2 linked regions of the Homo sapiens genome follow. The protein of the gene in region 1 purifies or fractionates together with the protein of each later gene. This does not show direct contact. Each region holds a gene or a part of one and is shown in the gene's direction. Other genes may lie near its edges.

Region 1 (4,136 bases):
CTCATGGCAGAAATAATCTGCCTTGACTTCTGTTTCCACGCTGCTTCTGCCAGGACCATGCGCTCGGCGTGTTTTTCTTTCCGCTATAATTATCCAGGCCCATCCCAGCTCTGGTCCCCTCAGCTGTTCCCTGGCAGTCCCTTCTGCTGGTGAAAACACATATGGCGCCGGCCTGACCAGGGTGTAAGTGTGTGAATATCAGGAAGATGACTGAACGTCTTTGGGACTCCGTTTCCTCATTGTAAAATGGAGGTTAATACCAGCCTTCTTCTACTCCCCAAACGCACGTGTTTGTCCCGGCCAGAGGGCCCAATTGTTGGCTGTTCACGCGTCAGTTACCCCCACAGGACGGGTCAGCCAATTAAAGGCGAACCAGGCCCGGTCCATCTCCTGACGCCTTTTCTCATCCCAGGGCTGGACAGGCAGCTGGCCTGGGCCCGGCTCTGCCTTGTCACGTGCGGGGGCCGGCCCGTTTGCTTGTCTGTGTGTAGGAGCGTGAGGTCACGCTGGGTGCTCCCGCCCCGCCGGGGCCTTTAGTGTCCTGGTCCCTAAACGCCAGGCCGCTCCACCGGGGGAGAAGGCGCGAACCCCAGCCGAGCCCAACGGCTGTTGTCGGTTGCCGGGCCACCTGTTGCTGCAGTTCTGATTGGTTCCTTCCCCCGACAACGCGGCGGCTGTAACCAATCGACAGCGAGGCCGGTCGCGAGGCCCCAGTCCCGCCCTGCAGGAGCCAGCCGCGCGCTCGCTCGCAGGAGGGTGGGTAGTTTGCCCAGCGTAGGGGGGCTGGGCCCATAAAAGAGGAAGTGCACTTAAGACACGGCCCCGCTGGACGCTGTTAGAAACCGTCCTGGCTGGGAAGGCAAGAGGTGTGTGACTGGACAAGACTTGTTTCTGGCGGTCAGTCTTGCCATCCTCACAGAGGTTGGCGGCCCGAGAGAGTGTGAGGCAGAGGCGGGGAGTGGCAAGGGAGTGACCATCTCGGGGAACGAAGGAGTAAACGCGGTGATGGGACGCACGGAAACGGGAGTGGAGAAAGTCATGGAGAGAACCCTAGGCGGGGCGGTCCCCGCGGAAAGGCGGCTGCTCCAGGGTCTCCGCACCCAAGTAGGAGCTGGCAGGCCCGGCCCCGCCCCGCAGGCCCCACCCCGGGCCCCGCCCCCGAGGCTTAAGCCGCGCCGCCGCCTGCGCGGAGCCCCACTGCGAAGCCCAGCTGCGCGCGCCTTGGGATTGACTGTCCACGCTCGCCCGGCTCGTCCGACGCGCCCTCCGCCAGCCGACAGACACAGCCGCACGCACTGCCGTGTTCTCCCTGCGGCTCGGTGAGCCTGGCCCCAGCCCTGCGCCCTTTGCGCCCCCCACGCTTGTTCTGCGTGCGCTGCCCGCTCTTCCATTTACCTTCTCTCCCACCCAAGTTTGTACTCTTTTCTTTCTCTCGGTTTTATTTTTTGTTTTTGTTTGTTTGTTTGAGACAGGCTTTCGCTCTGTCTCCCAGGCTGGAGTGCAGTGGCGCGATCTCGGCTCACTGCAGCCTCCACCTCCCAGGTTCAAGCGATCCGCCTGCCGAGTAGCTGGGATTACAGGCGCCCGCCACCACGCCTGGCTAATTTTTGTGTTTTGTAGAGATGGGGTTTCGCCATGTTGGCCAGGCTGGCCTCGAACTGCTGAGCTCAAGCAATCCGCCCGCCTCGGCCTCACAAAGTCCTAGAATTTTAGGCATGAGCCTCCGGGTCCGGCCTGTGCTAATCCTTTCTGTCCTTGGTTCTTTATTTCTCTTCTCTCTTTTTCTTAGTCCCTTTTGTTCTTTCCCTCTCCCGTTCAGTTGGCTGTCGTTTGAGCCTCCACCTTTTCACTCCCTCCTTTCCACCACGATGCCGAGCCCTGCCTTGGATGGGGACCATCAGCGATGACCACAATGACCTCTCCCTTACCAGGCAGCTCCAGGCAGTGTTCCTGCACCGCCTTTCCCAGGGCTTGGGGGCTTTTTCTAGTGGGCTTTGAGCTGCTCAATCTGGCCTCTGCAGGGCCGGCTCCCAGCCCTTCCAACCTCCTCACAGCCCGACCTGGGACCTAGCCAATTCCCGGAGAGTCTCTGTCCCATCGTGACCCCCTCACAACTCTCCCACTCACCAAAGTCTGATGACTGTGCTAGGGGGTGCTTATATAGAGTACTGAGTGTTACAAAAGCAGAAGTCTGGATGAGAACCAATTTGTGATATTAAGCAGGTGGGGTGGGGGTGGGGAGTGTACCTAGGTTCATTTTCCGCCCTGCTTTTCCCCTTTCCAGTGTGTGCACTTAACCAGTCCCTGGGCCCTGTTCCCCATCCCCCTCCAAGGCATGGATTGGGTGGGCTTGTGTGTCTTGGGGCAGGTGGCCCTTTCTAAACTCTCTGCCTTTGCTCACCCACAGGACACATAGTATGACCATTAGGTGTTTCGTCTCCCACCCATTTTCTATGGAAAACCAAGGGGATCGGGCCATGATAGCCACTGGCAGCTTTGAAGAACGGGACACCTTTAGAGAAGCTTGATCTTGGAGGCCTCACCGTGAGACCTTACAAAGCCGGGTAAGAGTCCAGTCCAAGGAAGAGGTCTCTTGCTGCCTCCTAACCCTGTGGTCTAGGGGCAGGAGTCAGCAGGGCATTAACAAAAATAATTACCATCCCCACCCCCGACAGTGAAGTGGCTCTTTCCAGTTCACAGAGCACTCTCACACCTCCCCGCTCTCATTCTGGCCCTTCAGCTGACTCGGACAAGCCAAGGATCTTGGTCCCCATTTTATAAAGGAGAAAACTGAGGCCCACGTGTAACAGTGATTGGCCCCAAGTCATCCCGGGAGCCAGCAGAAGAGCTAGGACAGGAACCTATTGTTCTAACTTCATATTGATGCTAGCTTTTGACTATCCCTGAAACCGAGATTGGTAATCAGCCCGGCTCTGAAACTGGTTATTTGCTGGGGACTGTAAAATAGGATTAACTATTTCTAGTCCTGCATTTTAATTGCTGTTAGTAGGGCCATCTTACCCACCCTCTGAAGGACCTGACTTGGCAAGCCCAAGGCAACATTCAGAATATGGCAGCTGAACCTCTGTGCACTTGTCTTTGGGCAGCAGCTGGGTCTTATTCTTCTCTGGCCTTCACAACATCCTGCAACCCAGCTCAAGGTCAGGAATGTGACAGACTCATGTCATCATATCTCTGATGCCCAGAGAAGGGATACCATTTGCCTGAGCCTTCTCAGTACTGTTTAATCAGCCTGTGAGAACTTTCCTTGTGAAAGGCCCTGTCTGTGCCTGGGGCTGATAAAACAGCAAGAACGAACTGAGGAGCTGGGCAGCAGTGCAAAGCAAATACTACCAGCTTTGGTGCCTGTAAGTGTGGCTCTTACTCATCTCACATGGAAATAAGGGCAGCCACCTTGCAGGGCTGCTCTGAGGATTGAGCTAATACAGTGCCCTGGGCGTTGGGGTGGGGAAAGTTGTGGAGCACCTCCTGGGGGAAGGGGGTGTCAGAGCAGGGAATCTGGGGAGTCCGAGGGCACCTTCATCAACCCAATCTGTCATTTGAGCACCAGTCTTCACTGAGCCTCGTGGGCAAGCTGGAGGGAAACAGGAATAAGGTCAGGCCCTGTTCTATAGGTCCCAGTGTAGTTGCTATGGTGAGTATCTTCATTTCCCTGCTTGCCCCAGCCACCTGGAGTGAGAAGCCCAAGAGGAAGCTGGGTGAGCTGTTTGTTTCCATGGGTCTCTGTGTTCACAGCTGACTCCCTTCACCAGCCAGCCCTTTCACCTGAGCCCCAGCAACAAAGGCAGTCAGGCGGGGCTCAAAGCAGCTGCTCCAATGAAGTCAAAGAAATAAGCTCAGGGGAAGAAGCAGGTCACCCTCCCCCACTAGGGTGCTGGGCTCACTTCCTCCTGGGGCAGTGGAGGAGGGTGTGGTTCCAACTCAGAACAAAATGGGGCTTTTGGTTTACTTTATCACTCTTCACAGCTCTGACCTGGACCCCTCATCCCTGCCTGTCTTGTGGTGTAAGTGCGGATCCCCCTAAGTTGGAGGAAAGGAAACTGGCCCAAACAAAAAGGAGAGCAGTTTTCTCTGCATCACATGGTAGGCCAGGAGGAGTCTAATGCCCCAGAGTT
Region 2 (3,667 bases), on another chromosome or scaffold:
GCGTCATCCCATGAACAGGCAAGATCAAGTCCAGGAGAAAGACACGGATCCCGCCACCAGCAGTCAGCAGACAGCTCCAGACACTCAGGCATTCCGCGCAGACAAGCTTCATCTGCAGTCAGAGACAGTGGACACTGGGGGTCCAGTGGTAGTCAGGCCAGTGATAGTGAGGGACATTCAGAGGAGTCAGACACACAGTCAGTGTCAGGCCATGGACAGGATGGGCCCCATCAGCAGAGCCACCAAGAGTCCGCACGTGACTGGTCAGGGGGAAGGTCTGGACGTTCAGGGTCTTTCATCTACCAGGTGAGCACTCATGAACAGTCTGAGTCTGCCCATGGGCGGACCAGGACCAGCACTGGACGAAGACAAGGATCCCACCACGAGCAGGCACGAGACAGCTCCAGGCACTCAGCGTCCCAAGAGGGTCAGGACACCATTCGTGCACACCCGGGGTCAAGGAGAGGAGGAAGGCAGGGATCCCACCATGAGCAATCGGTAGATAGATCTGGACACTCAGGGTCCCATCACAGCCACACCACATCCCAGGGAAGGTCTGATGCCTCCCATGGGCAGTCAGGATCCAGAAGTGCAAGCAGACAAACTCGTAAGGACAAACAATCAGGAGACGGCTCCAGGCACTCAGGGTCACGTCACCATGAAGCTGCCTCTTGGGCTGACAGCTCTAGACACTCACAGGTGGGACAGGAACAATCATCGGGGTCCAGGACAAGCAGGCACCAGGGATCCAGTGTTAGCCAGGACAGTGACAGTGAGAGACACTCAGACGACTCCGAGAGGTTGTCTGGGTCTGCTTCCAGAAACCATCATGGATCTTCTCGGGAGCAGTCAAGAGATGGCTCCAGACACCCTGGGTTCCATCAAGAAGACAGAGCCAGTCACGGGCACTCTGCAGACAGCTCCAGACAATCAGGCACTCATCACACAGAGTCTTCCTCTCATGGACAGGCTGTGTCATCCCATGAACAGGCAAGATCAAGTCCAGGAGAAAGACATGGATCCCGCCACCAGCAGTCAGCAGACAGCTCCAGACACTCAGGCATTGGGCACAGACAAGCTTCATCTGCAGTCAGAGACAGTGGACACCGAGGGTCCAGTGGTAGTCAGGTCACTAACAGTGAGGGACATTCAGAAGACTCAGACACACAGTCAGTGTCAGCCCACGGACAAGCTGGGCCCCATCAGCAGAGCCACAAAGAGTCCGCACGTGGCCAGTCAGGGGAAAGCTCTGGACGTTCAAGGTCTTTCCTCTACCAGGTGAGCTCTCATGAACAGTCTGAGTCCACACACGGACAGACTGCACCCAGCACTGGAGGAAGACAAGGATCCCGCCATGAGCAGGCACGAAACAGCTCTAGGCACTCAGCATCCCAAGACGGTCAGGACACCATTCGTGGACACCCGGGGTCAAGCAGAGGAGGAAGGCAGGGATCCTACCACGAGCAATCAGTAGATAGGTCTGGACACTCAGGGTACCATCACAGCCACACCACACCCCAGGGAAGGTCTGATGCCTCCCATGGGCAGTCAGGACCCAGAAGTGCAAGCAGGCAAACAAGAAATGAGGAACAATCAGGAGACGGCTCCAGGCACTCAGGGTCACGTCACCATGAACCTTCCACTCGGGCCGGCAGCTCTAGACACTCACAGGTGGGCCAGGGAGAATCAGCGGGGTCCAAGACAAGCAGGCGCCAGGGATCCAGTGTTAGTCAGGACAGGGACAGTGAGGGACACTCAGAAGACTCTGAGAGGCGGTCTGAGTCGGCTTCCAGAAACCATTATGGATCTGCTCGGGAGCAGTCAAGACATGGCTCCAGGAACCCCAGGTCCCATCAAGAAGATAGAGCCAGTCATGGGCACTCTGCAGAGAGCTCCAGACAATCAGGCACTCGTCATGCAGAGACTTCCTCTGGTGGACAGGCTGCATCATCCCAGGAACAGGCAAGGTCAAGTCCAGGAGAAAGACATGGATCCCGCCACCAGCAGTCAGCAGACAGCTCCACAGACTCAGGCACTGGGCGCAGACAAGATTCATCTGTAGTCGGAGACAGTGGAAACCGAGGGTCCAGTGGTAGCCAGGCCAGTGACAGCGAGGGACACTCAGAAGAGTCAGACACACAGTCAGTGTCAGCCCACGGACAGGCTGGGCCCCATCAGCAGAGCCACCAAGAGTCCACACGTGGCCAGTCAGGGGAAAGGTCTGGACGTTCAGGGTCTTTCCTCTACCAGGTGAGCACTCATGAACAGTCTGAGTCCGCCCATGGACGCACAGGGCCCAGCACTGGAGGAAGACAAAGATCCCGCCACGAGCAGGCACGAGACAGCTCCAGGCACTCAGCGTCCCAAGAGGGTCAGGACACCATTCGTGGACACCCAGGGTCAAGCAGAGGAGGAAGGCAGGGATCCCACTATGAGCAATCGGTAGATAGTTCTGGACACTCAGGGTCTCATCACAGCCACACCACGTCCCAGGAAAGGTCTGATGTCTCCCGTGGGCAGTCAGGATCCAGAAGTGTCAGCAGACAAACACGTAATGAGAAACAATCAGGAGACGGCTCCAGGCACTCAGGGTCGCGTCACCATGAAGCTTCCTCTCGGGCCGACAGCTCTAGACACTCGCAGGTGGGCCAGGGACAATCATCAGGGCCCAGGACAAGCAGGAACCAGGGATCCAGTGTTAGCCAGGACAGTGACAGTCAGGGACACTCAGAAGACTCTGAGAGGTGGTCTGGGTCTGCTTCCAGAAACCATCTTGGATCTGCTTGGGAGCAGTCAAGAGATGGCTCCAGACACCCTGGGTCCCATCACGAAGACAGAGCCGGTCACGGGCACTCTGCAGACAGCTCCAGACAATCAGGCACTCGTCACACAGAGTCTTCCTCTCGTGGACAGGCTGCGTCATCCCATGAACAGGCAAGATCAAGTGCAGGAGAAAGACATGGATCCCACCACCAGCTCCAGTCAGCAGACAGCTCCAGACACTCAGGCATTGGGCATGGACAAGCTTCATCTGCAGTCAGAGACAGTGGACACCGAGGGTACAGTGGTAGTCAGGCCAGTGACAGTGAGGGACATTCAGAAGACTCAGACACACAGTCAGTGTCAGCACAGGGAAAAGCTGGGCCCCATCAGCAGAGCCACAAAGAGTCCGCACGTGGCCAGTCAGGGGAAAGCTCTGGACGTTCAGGGTCTTTCCTCTACCAGGTGAGCACTCATGAACAGTCTGAGTCCACCCATGGACAGTCTGCGCCCAGCACTGGAGGAAGACAAGGATCCCATTATGATCAGGCACAAGACAGCTCCAGGCACTCAGCATCCCAAGAGGGTCAGGACACCATTCGTGGACACCCGGGGCCAAGCAGAGGAGGAAGACAGGGGTCCCACCAAGAGCAATCGGTAGATAGGTCTGGACACTCAGGGTCTCATCACAGCCACACCACATCCCAGGGAAGGTCTGATGCCTCCCGTGGGCAGTCAGGATCCAGAAGTGCAAGCAGAAAAACATATGACAAGGAACAATCAGGAGATGGCTCTAGGCACTCAGGGTCGCATCATCATGAAGCTTCCTCTTGGGCCGACAGCTCTAGACACTCACTGGTGGGCCAGGGACAATCATCAGGGCCCAGGACAAGCAGGCCCCGGGGAT

What was found.
Region 2: the proteins of UCP2 (region 1) and FLG purify together in Homo sapiens (affinity purification with mass spectrometry; 3 studies listed by BioGRID and IntAct, with this or other methods). This does not show direct contact.

What each region holds. Positions count from the first base shown.
Region 1 is NC_000011.10:73,979,904-73,984,039, reverse strand, and holds the start of UCP2 (dicarboxylate carrier SLC25A8), read left to right. Parts: upstream 1-1,196; 5' UTR 1,197-1,319; intron 1,320-2,407; 5' UTR 2,408-2,564; intron 2,565-3,110; exon of another isoform or gene 3,111-3,368; intron 3,369-3,987; exon of another isoform or gene 3,988-4,104; intron 4,105-4,136. UniProt on the Homo sapiens protein: Antiporter that exports dicarboxylate intermediates of the Krebs cycle in exchange for phosphate plus a proton across the inner membrane of mitochondria, a process driven by mitochondrial motive force with an overall impact on glycolysis, glutaminolysis and glutathione-dependent redox balance.
Region 2 is NC_000001.11:152,308,165-152,311,831, reverse strand, and holds part of FLG (filaggrin), read left to right. Parts: coding exon 1-3,667.